Linked DNA regions of Homo sapiens: region 2 is linked to region 1. The links come from fine-mapping of genetic effects on gene expression. A gene starts in region 1. The other region holds a variant in brackets. All regions are shown on one strand. Distances are between the middles of the regions.

Region 1 (8,324 bases):
AATAATTCTCCATTCCCTCTCCCTTTGGCCCTTGGCAACCACTATCTCCTTCCTGTCTCTAAGAATTTAACTATGCTAGGTACTTCTGTAAGTGGAATCACACAATTTTTGTTCCTCTGTGGCTGGTTTATTTCACTTAGCATAATATTCTCAAGGTTCATCCACAATGTATCATGTGTCAGCATTTCCTTCCTTTTAAAGCTAAATAATATTCCATTGTATGGGCCAGGAACAGCGGCTCATGCCTGTAATCCCAGCACTTTGGGAGGCCGAGGCGGGCAGATCACCTGAGGTCAGGAGTTCAAGACCACCCTGGCCAACATGGTGAAACCCCATCTCTACTAAAAATACAAAATTAGCTGGGTGTGGTGGCACATACCTGTAATCCCAGCTACGAGGGAGGATGAGGCAGGAGAATCACTTGAACCTGGGAGGTGGAGGTTGCAGTGAGCCAAGATCGCGCCACTGCACTCCAGCCAGGGCAATAAGAGCGAAACTCTGTCTCTAAATAAATAAATAAATAAAATTTAAAAATTCCATTGTGTGACTACAATACATCTTGTTTTTCCACCCATCCATTGATGGACACTTGAGTTACTTCTACCTTTTGACTGTTGTGAATAAGGCTGCTACGGACATGGGTGTGGAAATACTCGTAGTCCCTGCTTTCAATTCTTTTGGGTATATCCCCAGAAACAGAATGACCGGATCATATGGTAATTCTGCTCAGTTTTTTGAGGAACTGCCATACATACACCACAGCATTTTCCTCAGAGGCAGCACTACTTCACATCTTCACCAGCAATGTGCAAGGATTCTAATTTCTTCACATCCTTTCCAACATGTTATTTTCTGTTTTTTAAAAGCGAATAGCTGGCCAGGCGCGGTGGCTCACGCCTGTAATCCCAGCACTTTGGGATGCCAAGGTGGGAGGAATCAGCTGAGATCAGGAGTTTGAGACCAGCCTGACCAACATGGATAAATCCCGTCTCTACTAAAAATACAAAATTAGCCAGGCGTGGGTGGCACATGCCTGTAATCTCAGCTACTCAGGCGGTTGAGGCAGGAGAATTGCTTGAACCCGGGAGGCGGAGGTTGCAGTGAGCCAAGATGGCACCATTGCACTCCAGCCTGGGCAACAAGAGCGAAACTCCATCTCAAAAACAAAGAAAAAAAGATAATAGCCATCCTAATGGATGTGAAGTGGTTCAATGTATATCTTTTTATTTGTATAACTTCTTTCAAAATGTATATAATTATTTTGTGTATATGTAATTTGTTTTACATAGTAGCATTATGCTATTCCTTTCCCTCTGTGTCTTACTATTTTCTGTTGGAACTGTGTTTAAAATCTATACATTTGTTTTATGTACATGGAATTCATTGCTTCTCACTTTTGCATAGCACTTTATAGTATGCATGAATCACATCCATGTATATTGAGAACCTACTATGTGCTTGTACCAAGCTTTCTATATGATTTAATCTGATTCCATACAGCAATCCTAAGAAGGTGTTGTAATTATCACATTTTATGGATGAGAAAACTGACACACACAGAGTTAAGGAACGTGCCCAGAGTCACACAGCCGGAAGTGGAAGAGGTAGAAGTTTAACCCAGGTCATTCTGGTGCCACAGAAGAGCTCACACGTGTAAGGTGTTACAAAGAGCTATAGGTAGAGATCTGACTGTAGACAGAGGCTCTCTCTTAGGTGAGGGCACTCTGATAAAAGTTCTAGTCCTGATTTGGCTACTTATCTTCACAGTGCAAATCACCTTCCCTTACAGACATCACTTTCTGTCTGTGTAAGATGAAGATGATTTTAATGCTTTTTCTAGATTCACTACTTGTTGATTAAATACCCTTAAGCTAATGGGAAAATAATCAGAATTGAAGTCAGGTGTTTGTTTCTTTCGTGTATTTGGAGTGGCTGGCCTACCTGGGAGCCACTCCAAATACACGAAAACCCTCTGATGTGTCTATTCACGAGGTGAACTGTTCATAGGATGGACTATTCCCAGGGAAACAGTTGCTGTCTCCACTTCCATCCCACCTCTCCTGAACTTTGCACTTACCATGGTGAAAAATTAACTGGGCTAATGTTTCCCTCCCAAGGACAACCTCTGCAAAAGCAGGTATGGCTGGGCCCCAAAAGACCAGGTGCCAGAACAGAGTTGTACCCATCCAGAGCAGCCCACCCATTCACTGCCCAAAGTCAAGATCAAGAGAACATGCAGGGTCTTCTCAGCACTGGAAGAATCAGTTCCTCAGCCCTCCTCAGAGCTTTCTGAAACTGGACTTAGTCCCCCAGTGGAGGGACTTCTCTTGGAGAAACAGGCCTGAGGAGAAAGAACTAGCCCAGAAATGGCACTTATTAGACTTGTAGGTGGGTCCAGCACTATTTTTCTGCATGCACAGCTGTTCTTGTCACACGGATGCCAGCAGGGAAGCATGGTTCTGCCACACTAACTAGCTGGCTGCCTAGTTATTTCCTCCCCTCAGGAAAATGAGAGGGCTGAATGAGGGCCCCTTCCCATACCATGATTTTACAGGGTGAAGTACCTGTCAGGTCCTTCTACTACATGTAATCCTCAAATCTCTCTGACGCTCTTCCTCTACAGTGCAAATCACTCTCCTTCAGCAGACATTGCTCTCTCTGTAACATAAAGGACTTGAACTACAGGAGGACAGTTACAATGCTCTTTCTGGATCCACCACTCTGCACAGTGAGAACCGCTTGCTCCATTCTTACAGCGGAGAGAACGGACGCTGCCCAAGGGGAAGAAGAGAAAGAGCCGGGATTGGAAGCCAGGCCAGTCACTGATGGATCCTGAGCCCCTCTTACTTTCTTTGGCTACCTCTCAATGGTTGGACTTGTTCAGGTTAAGATTAACACTTTACTGGACGATGATGACTGCAAGGCCCCTGCCCATCTTTGCCCACTCAGTCACATCATCCTCATCCCCACCCTTTGATGCTTCTCTAGGCTGTGAACGCCTTGAAAACCTTAGTCTTTTATTTTGGAAGTTCAGGAACTGAATAGGAGGGCTGCAACTCAGAGCTGCTCCGTCAATGTGTGTTAAACTTATTTGACCTCCCTCCACCACTTTTCATGGCATTAGCAATGCAAACCTTTTCACATGAGCTTCCCACAGCCACCCTAGGAGATCGCGAGGGAAGCTACCTCTAGCCCCATTTTACAGGTGAGCAAATAATCCTTGCAGTGTTACAACAGTGTGCCCGTGTAGAGAACTGTTTTGCAAAGAGCTCGATCAATGATGTCATCTTTGCCTTCCGTGACCCAGGCAGCTGGGTGCAGTCTCAAGATCGGAGACTGAGGCTTCAACAAAGTATTGGGTTCAAATTCCAGCTCTGCCACTTGGAACCCTGAGTAAGTAATGTAATCTCTCTGTGCCTCCGTAAACGTGAGGCACAGGAACATCTACCTCACCAACCACTGTTAAGACTGAATCAAAGGGCAGCAGGCGGACTACCCGGAATGAAGAAAGCAATCAATAAATGTGGATTGTGTCATCCTTGTCTCTCTTGACGGACGGGAAGAGGAGAGTGAAACCTAAGACCACAGCGGCAGCGCGTTAACAGGAGGACCAGCAAGGAACGGAAGCCAGGTTGTCAAGCCTCAGTTGGCTTTCACGTATTCTCCTTTTCAGGCGGGTATTTAGGAAGAGAGGAGGGTGAGGAGCACAGCGCACTTCTGCAGCAGCAGCTGCGGATTGGCTTGTGGGAGGCGGTTCTCCGGAGCAAGGCAAGGGCCCCTGCCGCTTCTGGGCTGACTGTGGATTCCGCCACACCTCACAGGGCTTTGTAACTCCCCACCCACTTGAGGGTTCCAGATAACTTTTTTTTTTTAACAAAGCAGGGGTGGGGGTGGGAGATTCCTGCTGTTAAAAACAAACAAAGGGCTTAGACACCGGCTAGTCGGCTGCGGGAGGCAGCAAGAGAAAGGCCGAGGGGCCTGGAGTAGCTCCTGAAAACCGCCGAGGGCCCTGCGGGCAGACGCCCCTGAATTCTTTTGGTGGGGAGAAAAGCCGCGGAGCTCCCCAATGTGCCAATTGGTTTGTTGTTGTTTTGCTTTTTTTGAATACACAAACTCTCCGAAAACTCCTGTCTTGCCCCACTTTTTTGTGAGTTCATTGCTTTGGAAACAAAACTCTCTTCCATTTATTGGCAATTATCAAATTTCCGATCCTTCTCTATCAGGAGATCCAGCAACAAACACCCTGTTATGTAAATTTCTTTCAAAGATAAATTCGAAAGCCCCTCCATTCATTCCTTCAAGAACTCAACAGATGTCCTTGAGGCTCATTTTCTGCCGGGCACTCGGTTCACAAGGCTCAAGAGACCCCTGGCTCCAGCCATTGTCCAGGTTGTCACTGGTGTCCCCAGCTCTCCACTTCTGAGGACCCACTTCTCACCCCCTCCTCCTCCGCACACGTTCCCGAGGCTCTCGGCCGGTGTGATCTCACCGACTAGAGAATAAAAACAGCCCAGGGGCGCCGGCGCCGGCCAAGGGCCTTGACGGGGATCAGCAAGCGCGAGGCCAAGTGCGGGCCCCAACTTCCTGGGCCCGGGCCTTCCGCGCGCCCCCTCTCGGGCTCGGGTCCTCTCCAGGGTGCACTCGCGTCCGGACGACGCTTACTTGCTGCGAGTCCAACCCTCTCCGGCCCGCAACTCCAACCGAGCCGCCCGAGTGTGGACTCCGAGAGCGGACGCCACGGGCCGCGCTCAGCCCTCCCGCCCGAGGCCCCTCTCGCCGTGTTTCCCAGGACTTCCTCCCCGCGCCCGCCCGACTTCAGGTCGGGGCCGCGCAGGGTCCCGCGCGCTCCAGCCAGGACTGCCGCCGCCCGGGTCGCCCACGTGGGCGTGCTGGGCGCGGGGTGGTGGCCGGCCGGGCGCCCTCCCCGGAGCAGGGGGCGGGCAGGGCGCCCGCGGGAGGAGGTGGCGGGGCGCGGGGGAGGAGGCGGGGAGCCCCGGCGGCGAGGGGGCGGTGACAGCACTTGGAAAGGAGGCTGCACGCGGATTTGCATGAAACACAGACTGGGAGCGGGCGGGAGCGGGAGCGCGGCGCACGCCCCGGGCCGGCCCAGCCAGCGAGCGAGCGAGCGGCGAGCCGGGAGGAGGAGGGTGGCGGGGCGGTGAGGCCGCAGAGGCGGAGGGATCTGCGCATCAAAGCTAGCGAGGCGAGCGAAGTTTGGCCGGGGGTTGGACTTTCCTTCCCGGAGGCGGCACCCAAACAGCTACCCCGTGCGGAAACCCAAACTTCTGCTGCCACTTGGAGTCTCGCGGCCGCCGCCTCCGCCCCGCGTTCGGGGCCTTCCCGACCCTGCACTGCTGCCGTCCGCCCGCCCGGCCGCTCTTCTCTTCGCCGTGGGAGCCGCTCCGGGCGCAGGGCCGCGCGCCGAGCCCCGCAGGCTGCAGCGCCGCGGCCCGGCCCGGCGCCCCGGCAACTTCGCCGAGAGTTGAGGCGAAGTTTGGGCGACCGCGGCAGGCCCCGGCCGAGCTCCCCTCTGCGCCCCCGGCGTCCCGTCGAGCCCAGCCCCGCCGGGGGCGCTCCTCGCCGCCCGCGCGCCCTCCCCAGCCATGTCGTCCATCCTGCCTTTCACTCCCCCGATCGTGAAGCGCCTGCTGGGCTGGAAGAAGGGCGAGCAGAACGGGCAGGAGGAGAAATGGTGCGAGAAGGCGGTCAAGAGCCTGGTCAAGAAACTCAAGAAGACGGGGCAGCTGGACGAGCTGGAGAAGGCCATCACCACGCAGAACGTCAACACCAAGTGCATCACCATCCCCAGGTGGGGGCCCGCCCGGGGGGGACCCGGGGTCACGCCGGCCCAGCCCCCTGGCACTGCGGGGCCGACCCAGTGGGGCTGGAGATGGGAAGAGGGAGAGAGAGGGAGGGAGTGAGACTGTGTGGGTGCGTGTGTGTGAGAGTGGGAGAGCGCGGGCAGGAAGGGGGTGGGGGGACCCCAAACAAAACCATCTCTGATTTGCAAAGATCAGAGCCCGAGGCTTCCACGCGGCACTCTGGCTTCCACACCTCACATTCCCTTTCCACCTCCGGGAGGGGAGAGCGGGTTGCTGCGGGACTCGGCCGCCCCCACTCCGGGGAGCTGGGGCTGGAAGTTGAGGCCCGCTTTGTTCGGCTCCGCGGGCCGGAGCCCCTCCTCCGCCGCCGCCTCCCGCCCCCGCGGCCCGCGCTCGTGGAGGTGGTGGTGTCTTTGCGTTTCTTTTCTTCAGTCGGGTCTCCCCACTTTCCTCTACAGGAATGCGGTCCGTACAGCTGGGGCTGTGGGTGAGGAGCGGGAGCCTAGTGATTGACAGATTCCTTCTTCGTTCTTTCTTTGCCTTCGGGATTAGCATTTTTATCGAGTATTTTTAGACTCGGTTGTGCCAGTCTCCCGCCCCCTGAGCATGCACGCACTTTGGTTGCAGTGCAATGCTCTGACTTCCAAATGGGAGAGACAAGTGGCGGAAAATAGGGTCTTCTCCCACCTCCCACCCCCCCATCCCGACTCTTTTGCCCTTCTTTTGGTCCAAGAGATTTTGAAACCGTGCAGAACGAGGGAGAGGGGCAGGCTGCAGCCGGGCAGATAACAAAACACACCCCAAAGTGGGCCTCGCATCGGCCCTCGCATTCCTGTAGAGCCTTCCTTCCCAAAGCGCGCTGCCATCTGTCTGGATCTCCTTTATCCTTCCCGTTGCGCGCTAGCTAGGTCGGGCGGGAGCCCACAGATGGCTGATAGAAGGGGTCAGTGACTTCACTCCCCCAGGGCCTTCCTTAGCTTAGATGTGCCTGGCTGGGAACTGGGGGTGCGGGTACCTTGGCTTCCTGTCTCTACCTCTCAGCCTCCTTTGATGCTGAACCAAGGGAGAGAGCGTGTGTGTTGGGGGCTGGCTCTTTTGGGGGTCCCAGGCTGCCGAGGAATGAGTAGAAAGCACCAGGGACTGTCAGCCGCAAAGGGATTGTCATCCCTGCTCCTGGGCCAGGGTGGACTCCATCCTTGGCCACCTGCTTGGGGCAGTTGTACAGGGGCTGCCAGGCGAGTCAGGCAGGCACAAAGCAACATCTGTCCACGGGAACCGAGGGCAGGCCTCCCCTGGAAATAAATGCCACATATGGTGGGAGTGCGGACTTAAATTTTTTTTAACTGGGTGGATCCAGTCAATAAAGGGGGAGGGAAGGCGGTGTGCTGTCTGGGGAAGTCTCTGGGCGTGTGATCGGGAGCCAGAATTGACTTCAGAGGAGGTGGTGTGATGTGATGGTCAGAGAGACCTGGGATTTGGTTCCAGCTCTGGTTGTTAATTCTTCTGTATTCCTTCCGTGGGGGTGGCTAGGGTAGAGTGGGTGAGTATGCTACTTCTCTTTCTGGGGAGGGGTCTGCCAAACCTACCTTCTCCTTATCTGCCTGGGTGCATTGAAGACAAGTGCTTTATGTATTGAAACAGAAGAAAAAAAGTGGTATCAATTGTAAAACAGGCAGCTGTGAAAAGTGTTTCACAGTTTACAAAGCACTTTCACATGGTTTTCTGAGGTCCTCAAAAAAAGACAGAAAGCAAGCAAGCAACCAGCCATGGAAAGTAGATAAGGTTGTTAGGCTTAAGATTATCACATTTTTAAAGCAGAGGAAACCTTAAAAGAGAGAGGTGAAAAGGCTTGAGTCATAGACATGGGGTTCTGCCTGAATGTGCTCTTTCTGCTGCCCCATGCTGCTTTATACTTTGAAGATCCTGAATACATTCTTTGCTGAATGCTAAAGCTGTGTTAGCTTGGGGAGGGCCCTGTGGATCTTTGTATGTGCGGTTGCTTCTTTAATCTTTGGGCTGGTGATAGCTTGGCAGAGAGGCCTTGCTTTCCCTTGCCTTGGTAGGAGTTTGTCCTCTGTGGGGCCATACCTTTGGCCTGCCTTTTCCTCTTCCAAAGTCCTGCTGAGACTTTGGAAGCCTAAGACGTGTGAACGCTTTGGATGATTCTGAGAGTTCAAGCCAACCTGCCCTGTGGCCTTCTCGTGACTTTGTTAGGACTGAGGCATCTTCTGCCTGCCTGGATAGGACTGAATACAAAAGTAGATTTTTTTTTTCATCTTTTTTTTCAGTTAGGGAAACCCAGTTGCTTGGGTGGATCCAGACAAAATGGATTTTCATCCTTGGATTTTGTGCCCACGCCTCTGGGTCACCTTGTGTCCCTTGGCAACAGCTGCTGCTGTTTTGGTCGTGGGCAGAAAACTAAAGGCCACGTCTTGGGGAGGTGGCTGGTTTGGCCCTGTGCTGGTGATATCAATGTGTCTGCTAAGCCCCATAGATTGCAGT
Region 2 (8,324 bases), 30 kb after region 1:
CTCCTGAGCGGGGCAGTGACTTGCGCAAGTCATTTGTTGGGAAGAATGGGGCAGGATGATGATGATGTCCACTTCTTGGGGACGATGGGGCAGGGTGGTAAACACTTCTCAATGCTTGCTTATGGGCTCTGATGTGAACCACTCACTATAGGCTGAATCCTGGTTTTCCAAGTGTTTAGAGGCTGAGCTGTTGTCCCCTGGGATTTTGGAAGGTAGACTCACATTTCACTGAAAGCCCTAGATGCTTCTCCTTACTGCAGTTCCCCTCCCCAGCACTCCCATCTCCCTGTTTTCTGGGGATTTAAATCAGCTTTGACTTGGGTCTGAAAGTAACCCGTGACAGCAGTAAGCCTCTCGATCTGTTGTTTGCAGTGTTTCAGCTAAAATATTATAAACAGACCACCAAACTGTGTTTGGTCCAAGGCCAAGCCCCTCCCTCCCTACTTGAACACTTGATTACCTGCTGCAGGGTTGCGTCTTGAGCTCCGAGGAGGAAACTGTTTATTTCAGGGCTGTTAGAGTGCAGTGCAGGAATCCAGGAGAATTTATTGTATTGTTACCATCTGGTTTCATGGAGTCTGTTTCTTTTGATTTTAATTGTGCCCTCTGGAGAGAAAGATCCTCGAAATGGTGGAAAAAGAAGATACCACCTTCCTCCCTGCCCTGCCCATGCCCTGGCACACACATTGCTATGGTGCATGGTGGGCATGGCTGAACCAAGTCCCCTTATTCTTTGAACATCTTTGCGTATTATTCCTGCTCCCCCAGCCGTCTCCAGGCCCCAGTCTCCTCTGGAGGGATTTCCCAGATGGCTTCCAGGCCAGAGCCTGACAGGAGAGATAGGACCTGCCTCCACGGTAACAAATGGCTGAAGGCGGTTTGGGGTGTTGCCAGTAGCCTGCCCTTCCGCAGTGGCTAAGGATCCGGTGTTGCGGTGATACATGATGTGACCTCTTCAACCAGTGAGTCACTCACCCCCAGATAACCACCCGGTACTTTCAGGGGAAACCGTTGTATCATTGTGGCTGTGGCCATGGTTTCTCCAAAATAAGGTGTTTTTAGAAATGAAAGTACAGGGATTGGTTTCCTTAGATTCATTGTCATGGATTCATAGTTCCCCAACCTTTTTCACGTAAAGACTCACCTCTGTTTCCTCTTAAATTGTACATTTGGTGTCTGTTTTATATATTAATAATAACTGACACTCTTCTAAAGTTTTTTGGGGAAAGAAAACATAAGTTTACCAAGCTCTCAATTCTAGAAGGTAATAGCCTTCTAGAATTGTCCATTTGCATAAGCATTTTTATGCTTATTGCTGTAATCAGTGTGTCAGTCAAACGGGAAGGAGGAACTACATCAGGTATTTAGCACAAAGGGAATTTAATACGGGACCTTGGTTACACAGGTGATAAAGCAGCTGAGAAGCCACAATGGGAAGGTGAGGTGACCCAGAACTTGGAGGAAGCCGCTGCCTTTAGGCTGGAGGGACAAAGGGAACAGGTGGTGTTCCCAGAGCCCAGGGTTGGGGTCACCAGTGGGCCTGTCTAGAGCAGTTGCAGCTGCTTCTAAAATTGCCGACCCAAGGTAGAAAAGGAGAGAGGGGAGAAACACTGTGGCCTCTCCCTCCCTCCTACCCACTACTTGCTGTGAGAGCCTCCTATTATTTAAACCCTGCTGGAGGCCTCCTGATCTGGAGCCTGGAAAGTCAGGGCTCAGCCCCAGGGAGGACACAGCAGAGCACAGGAAGATGAGGGATGGATCAGAGGGCAAACTGGACTTGGACCAGCACAGGGTGCAAGCCTGATGCTCTAATTTTATATTTTATCAGCATTTTCTTATATGTGGCTTTCATAATTACACATATTTTATCAAGTAGATGAACCGCATTTAACCATTCCCCAGCTGTTAGGTGAACACTTTAAATTACTATAAATCAGCAGTTCTCAAAGTGTGGCCCTGGGCCAGCAGCGTCAGCATCACCAGGGAACTTACTAGGAATGCAGAGTCTCAGGCCCCGCCCCCAGGCCTCTTGGATCAGAAACCCTGAGGGCGGTCCCAGCAGTCTGAATTTTGTACACTCTCCGAGGGCTGCTGATGTGCATTTGAGCTTGACAATCATGATTATAGGCAATGATGCACCGTGTGGAAGCTGGGGGCAGGATACTGAGGAGGGTGCTGGGGGTAGGAGTGGTGGAGGGAGTTTGTCCAGGGGAATGTGGTGTAGCGGAAAAGGCACAGGACTGGTAGGGCTGTGCCCCTTTAGGCCCAAGCCTGCCCTTGCTCTTAACCTCTTAATGGGTTTCTTCTTTCTTCTGTTAAACAGCTAAAAATATCAAATCATGGGGTTGCTGTGACGGTTAAATGTAATAACAGGCACGATGTTCCATATATGTTGGGTCTTCTGGAGCTTTGGGGAAGGAGGTGTGGCAATAACAGCCAGCTTCTGCATCATGGAAAATGGCCCCCATGCCCATCCCTGAGTTGTGTGGTCTGAAAATCAATGATGAACACTTAGGAGGCTTGTAGCCTGCTTTGAGTCAACAGGAAGACTGGACTTGAGAGTTTGGAATCTATAGTCTAACTTCCCTTCCTCACCCTGTCTTTGTAAATGGTGCTCATCTAACCCTACAGTTACTATCTTTTCACTCATGTCTAGCCACTTGTTAGAGGGGAAGGAACCCTGGTGTCAGGACAGGACTCCTGGCTCCCTGAGCTTGCTGTGTATTCCGGGGCATATCCTTAACCTCTCTGAGATGTACTTTTCTTATCTGTAAAACCTCTATGTTGATGCAAATCAGGTGCGATGATGGACGCAAAAACTGCCTTGAACACCTTAGCGGGCCTGTGAATATAAAGCCTTCAGGATCCACACCTCTGCCAGGGCCCACACCAGCCTCGCCACCTCGGTGAGCCTCTCATTCCACTGCCAGTGCAGGGGTGCATAATCAGGATTTGCCAGTGGAGGTAGGAAGGGTGGCTGGATTGTGACTGTCACGCTCCTGGCATCAGATGATACTGGTAGCAAGCTAGGGTCGTCTGTGCACTTTGCTCTCTCTCAGTCTTCCCAGCAGCCCTGTCAAGCGGGGAGTCTAGCAAGAAGTGGCCAAGGCGCAGATCATTTAAGAGGAAGGATGTGAGCAAACTGGATCCCAAGGGGACAGACAGAGGCCCACTTTGCCTCAGAGTCCAGAGAGCTGCTGCTGCTAAGAAGGGAAAGAGGAACTGGGTCGGGGTGCCTGCTGACTTGCAGCGCTGTGTTGGCATGCGAGGTAGCACTGGTTGGGAGGCGGTTACCTGAAGGAAGCAAAGGCAGCTGGTGGTTCCTATCTTCTTGCCTCTGGCAGCACCTAAAAGAAGCCTCTTGGGCCAATGAGAGGATGGACTGTCCCCCACCTGCAGAGTTCTGTGAAGTGGTGCGGACGTCTTTGTTGATCTCATTTGGTGCCTCCCCCTGTTGATGGCTGAGGAAGCCAAGGCTCTGAGAAGGCACATGGTTTACCCGAGGGGACACAGGCAAGGAATCTGAACCCGGATTGCATTTTCTGTTTTAGGGCTCTTTGTGTGACCACGGTGCTTCCCAGGCCCACACTTCCAGTGTTCCAGGCCCTTGACCACCAATCCTGTGGAGGGGTCCTCAGGGCAGGCAGTGGGACCACCTGAGGCCTGCGTGGGGTGGCCTGTGGTGTGAGGGACCCAGGAAGTCAGCCTGCACCTCGGCGAGTCAGAAGATGTGGCCATCCACCAACCATCAGATGTTCCCCTACGCTTAGGGCTGTGACCAGAAGTGGCATCAAGATGGGAGGCGAAGCTTCTGGGACCAGAGAACCAGCTGCTCCTGTTCATCCTGCTTTTGGGTGAATAGCTGATGCTCTGGGCCCCTCATCCCACCATCCCACCCCGTGGCTCCTCCTGAGCAGGGCTGAGGGCATTTACCTGGCTGCCTTCTAAAGCAGACTTGGCACGAGACAATCTTATTCAAACTCTGCTCAAAATTGCTACCCTGAGGAGAGGGCTGTGACCAGGCAGGACGGGGTGTGATAACATGGAACGCAGGGCCTGCTGGAGCAGGCCCTGATGAGTGTAAATAACTGTGTTAGAGGCAGGACCTGAGCTTTTCACTCCATAAATATATATTACTTCTAATGTGGCCAGGGCCGAGCTGAAGATCATAATTATGTGAGATCTGCTTTACAGGCATTTAGGGAAATGCGTGGGGCTGCACTGATGTAGGCAAAGATGTGGCCACATACATTTAACGTGTCTCAGAGGAGCCTTTGCTTTAACCCTTTAATCAGACCCTTCCAGGGTGCTCCTGACTTGATGTTCCAGAGCGTTTGGAGTCAAGAGTTGCACTCTTTTTTCTTGCATTAAATGCACTTGAGTTTTAACCCAGTCTCTGGGCGGATGGCAGGGCTGCATGAGGGGGTCTCCGTGGATGTGGATAAGTCCAGAGAAGTCAGCTGAGCTGACTGGGCAGGTCTTGGGTAAGTCACGCCACTTCCCTGAGCCTCAGTTTCTCCAGCAGTAAAATGTTACCTGTCTGTTAGGGTTGTAAGATTGAGTCAACATATGTACAAGGCATTGCTTAGTGTTTACCACCTTGCTGTGAGCTGGTAA[ATGGT/A]TGGTTGGTCCCTTCCTCTCCCCTTGGTGTTAAGCATATCAAAAGATGGCTGCGTGCTCACCTCCCCTGCTTTACTGGGTGGACAAAGGAGCTGTCACACAGTGTGGCAGCCTTAGAAAGGTTAAAGAAGGCCAGTGAAGTCTTCTGGCTCATCTGGTCCTGAGGTGGGTGAGCATTAAACCCAGATCCTTTTTGTGTTTCAGTATTGGATCCTTTGGCCGTCATATCTGAGACCCAGGGCCTCAGAGTGTGGGGTCCTAACCTAATTTGGCTTTGGGTGAACTGGCCAGCAAATGGAAGGATGGCTGTGGAAGTGTGTCTTGAGCCTGTCCTTACACAGGTGTGGCTGTCATCAAGGCCATCTTCATGGGCACGTGACGAGTACAGTCACATAGAGTTCATGCTCAGGAGGGCCCTATGCTTGGTTTAATGCTCTGCTGTCACCAGCTTGAAATCCTTTTTTTTTTTGTTATTGTTGCCCAAGCTGGAGTGCAATGGCTCAATATCGGCTCTCTGTAACCTCTGCCTGCGGGTTCAAGTGATTCTCCTGCTTCAGCCTCCCGAGTAGCTGGGATTACAGGCACCTGCCACCACACCCAGCTAATTTTTGTATTTCTTTTAGTAGACGTGGGGTTTCACCATGTTGGCGAGGCTGGTCTCGAACTCCTGACCTCAGGTGATCCAGCCTTGGGCTCCCAAAGTGCTGGGATTACAGGTGTAAACCACTGCATCCGGCCCATCTTGAAATTCTTAATAATTTTCTCTTTGACCTAGTGTTTTGGAGCATGAGCATGGATAGAGGAGATGTGGGCAGCATGTGCCCATTGAGCCTTCTGCCCCATTCACATGTAGCATTTGAGCACAGACTTCTGCCGGACCTACAATGTGGGGGAGTTGAGTGAGAGTCAAAGTGAGTGTGAGATGTCACATCTGCGACTGAGTAGCAGGGGCCCTGACAGTCCTGATGCTTTCCATCTAACTGGAACTTGTCTTGGTTGTAGAAAGAAGGCGATGACATTCTAAGAAACATCAACGACCAAAGAACCCCATCATATCCTTTATTACTCACGTCACTTCCCTGACACCAACCACTTATATTGAAAATGATGACGGAAGAAGGGAAAGGAAAGATAGGGCACCCATATTGCCTTTTCCTTTCAGATCTTCCTTACTCCTCAGGCAGCATAAAGAGTGAGGTAGAATGGACACATAGCGAGAAGTGAAGTAAAAACGATTGAGTTAGCTTTATGGATGTTTCTCTGGTTCTGGTACATCACAAAATGCACATCCAAGTCCTAAAATACAATTCATGTAATGTTGGTGATTCCACATACTAGTTAAAGGCTTTTTATATTTGCAGTTAAAACTGGCATCACACAATATAAATAGGAGTGGTAAAATTCATGCTAATTCATGTAATTTAAAATTTTAATGTTGCTTTACTTAGAATAATATTAAATAGCAAATTAAAAATACCATGACACATCAAGAGAGAGACTGTGGAGGAAAGAGAAAAAGCTTTCTATTTTAGTACCATGATTGATACTTTTTTTTTTTTTGCCTTTTGCACAAAGGGTTCCATATTTTCATTTTGCACTGGGCCCCACAAATTATGCAGCCAACCCTGACTGGCATCCTGGGGCTGGAGGTCTCAGGCTGGTCTTGCACGTGCAGCCTCTAGATCCCTGGTCTGCTCACATTGTCTCCTGGGTTGCGGAGCTAAGAAGCATCATATAGGCAAGTGAGCATGTGTGCTTGCTCTGAAGATTCCAAGCTTCCAGGTGGTGGTGGCTCTGTTGATAGAGATAAAAAGTTGAGGAATTTCAGAGGCTACAAACATACTCTTGTTGAAGGTGCTTTGGGGGTCTCCTGAGCATTTACTTTTGTGAATTTTTGGGCAGCCTAGTATAGAGGTGATCCAGCAGTAAGCTGAGAGAGAGGCCCTAGTTTGACTCTTAACTCAGGCATGGTCTCCTTGGGTGAGTCATTTCTTCATCAGGCAGTCCTCAGTCTTTTGGTTGCAGTGTAGTTGTTAAAAATGTGGGTACTTGGAGGCTGAATTCTTGGGTCAAATCTTATCTCCATCTCTCTGTCCTTTTTTTGTGGTTTTTTTTGTTTGTTTGTTTTTTGTTTTTGTAGGGGACAGGTTCTTCCTCCACCACTCAGGCTGGAAGGCAGTGGTATGATATTGGCACACTGCAGCCTTGACCTCCCAGCTCAAGCGATCTTCCCACCTCAGCCTCCTGAGTAGCTTGGGACTACAGGCACACATCTCTATGCTGGGCTAATTTTCATGTTTTTTTTGTTGTTGTTTTTTGTTGTTGTTTTTTGTAGAAACAGAGTTTCACTATGTTGCCCCAGGCTAGTCTCAAACTTGTGAGCTCAGGCTATCTGCCTGCCTCAGCCTCCCAAAGTGCCGGGATTACAGGTGTGAGCCACTGCGCCCGGCCTTATCTCCATCTCTTAACTAGTTGTTTGATGTTGGGCAGGTTGTTCAAGCCTCCTGGAGCCTTGGTTTACCCATCTATAAAATGGGTATAATGGTAATTATCTTATAGCATGGTCATGAGCGTGAAATGAGAGCAGGGGGAGGAGTAATCATTGTGTCTGGTCCATGGGACTGAATCAATGCTAGCAATGGTCATGATGGTGAAGAATGAGGGGAGGAGGAAGAAACAATTCCTGTGGGTGCTAGGACCAAAAGTAGTATCCTCTAGGAATCCTGGCCTTCAAGGTCTAACTTCCAAGATTCTGTGAGTACGATTCTAGGGAGCCTCTGCCTCAGACTTCTAAGTAGTTCTTCAGGCTGTGCTCTAGAAGTTACTGGAATGAAAGAAAAATTGTAGTGTTTGAAGGTCTTCAAGGATCCTGGTCCTCTCACACTGTCACTCTTAGTCACATGACCTTTGACTGTCCATTCCCTACTAAGCCTTGGTTTACGCATCTGTCAAATGGAGCATTCGTGGGTGTGCCTGCCTTAGAGGATGAGACCCAGCTGAGATGACATATGGAGAAATCGTTTATAAACTTAAGTACTGGTGTTAGGAAGAGCTAACACGGTGAGTCTTCAGTGTTTCTTTAAGTGCTGCTCACTACTGTCCTGAGAGACTCCAAGAAGCAGTTACTTTGTTTGGGCCTCAGTTCATCATCTGTGAGATGAGAGGATTGGGCTTTGTGCCTAAACTGCCCCCCCACCCCACCACCCAAGACAGATTAAAAAAGAAGGAAGGAGGGAGGGAGGGAGGGAGGGAGGGAGAGAGCGAGCGAGCAAGCAAGCAAGCAAGCCAGCAGGATTTGGAATCGTCCCCTAATTGGAACCACAATCGCAGGTTTCAGGGACTCAGGAAAGGGTGCAGCCCAGCTTGTGGTTGAGAAATGAATGTCAGATGTTAGGAAGAAAAAGGCCTATCTCAACATAGCAGGGGTTTCTTACTGCCCCTGCCTCCTCAGCCCCGGTAGCCTGTCACTCCCTGGCGAACAGCTTGGCAGCACAGAGGCAAACCACAGAGTACATTTGAGGCCCAGATCTGCTTATTTCGAGGGTGGGGCCGCGTTTTTCTCCTGCCACAGTGAGCTAATTAAAGAAAACAAGCTTCGGGAGTTGGGAGAGAACTGTCCACAGGACACTTGGGGAGGCTTGCTTTGGTTGTGGAGGCCTCCACAGCCCCCGGAAGGCAGGTGGAAGTGGGCATGGAGGGTCCTA

The links. PIP is the estimated chance that this variant, and not a neighbour inherited with it, causes the effect.
Region 2: its variant is fine-mapped to the expression of SMAD3 in whole blood (TOPMed, PIP 0.96).

Annotation. Positions count from the first base shown.
Region 1 is chr15:67,060,552-67,068,875 of GRCh38, forward strand. SMAD3 (SMAD family member 3) reads left to right here and starts at 5,051. Exons shown (of 9, transcript NM_005902.4): 1 at 5,051-5,809. The coding sequence starts at 5,604. SMAD3-DT (SMAD3 divergent transcript) reads right to left here and starts at 3,631. Exons shown (of 6, transcript NR_135686.1): 1 at 2,565-3,631. RefSeq lists enhancers at 1,997-2,141, 3,299-4,069, 5,609-6,377, a cis regulatory region at 2,062-2,075 and silencers at 4,828-5,317, 5,488-5,647, 5,798-5,847, 6,098-6,157, 6,178-6,267.
Region 2 is chr15:67,090,474-67,098,797 of GRCh38, forward strand. All of the region lies in intron 1 of SMAD3 (SMAD family member 3), which reads left to right. Among named protein-coding and RNA genes, the nearest start is that of SMAD3, 29 kb to the left of the region's middle. RefSeq lists enhancers at 1-49, 616-705, 3,411-4,181, 6,497-6,546, 7,760-8,261. The variant ATGGT/A (reference allele first, on the strand shown) is at 4,618.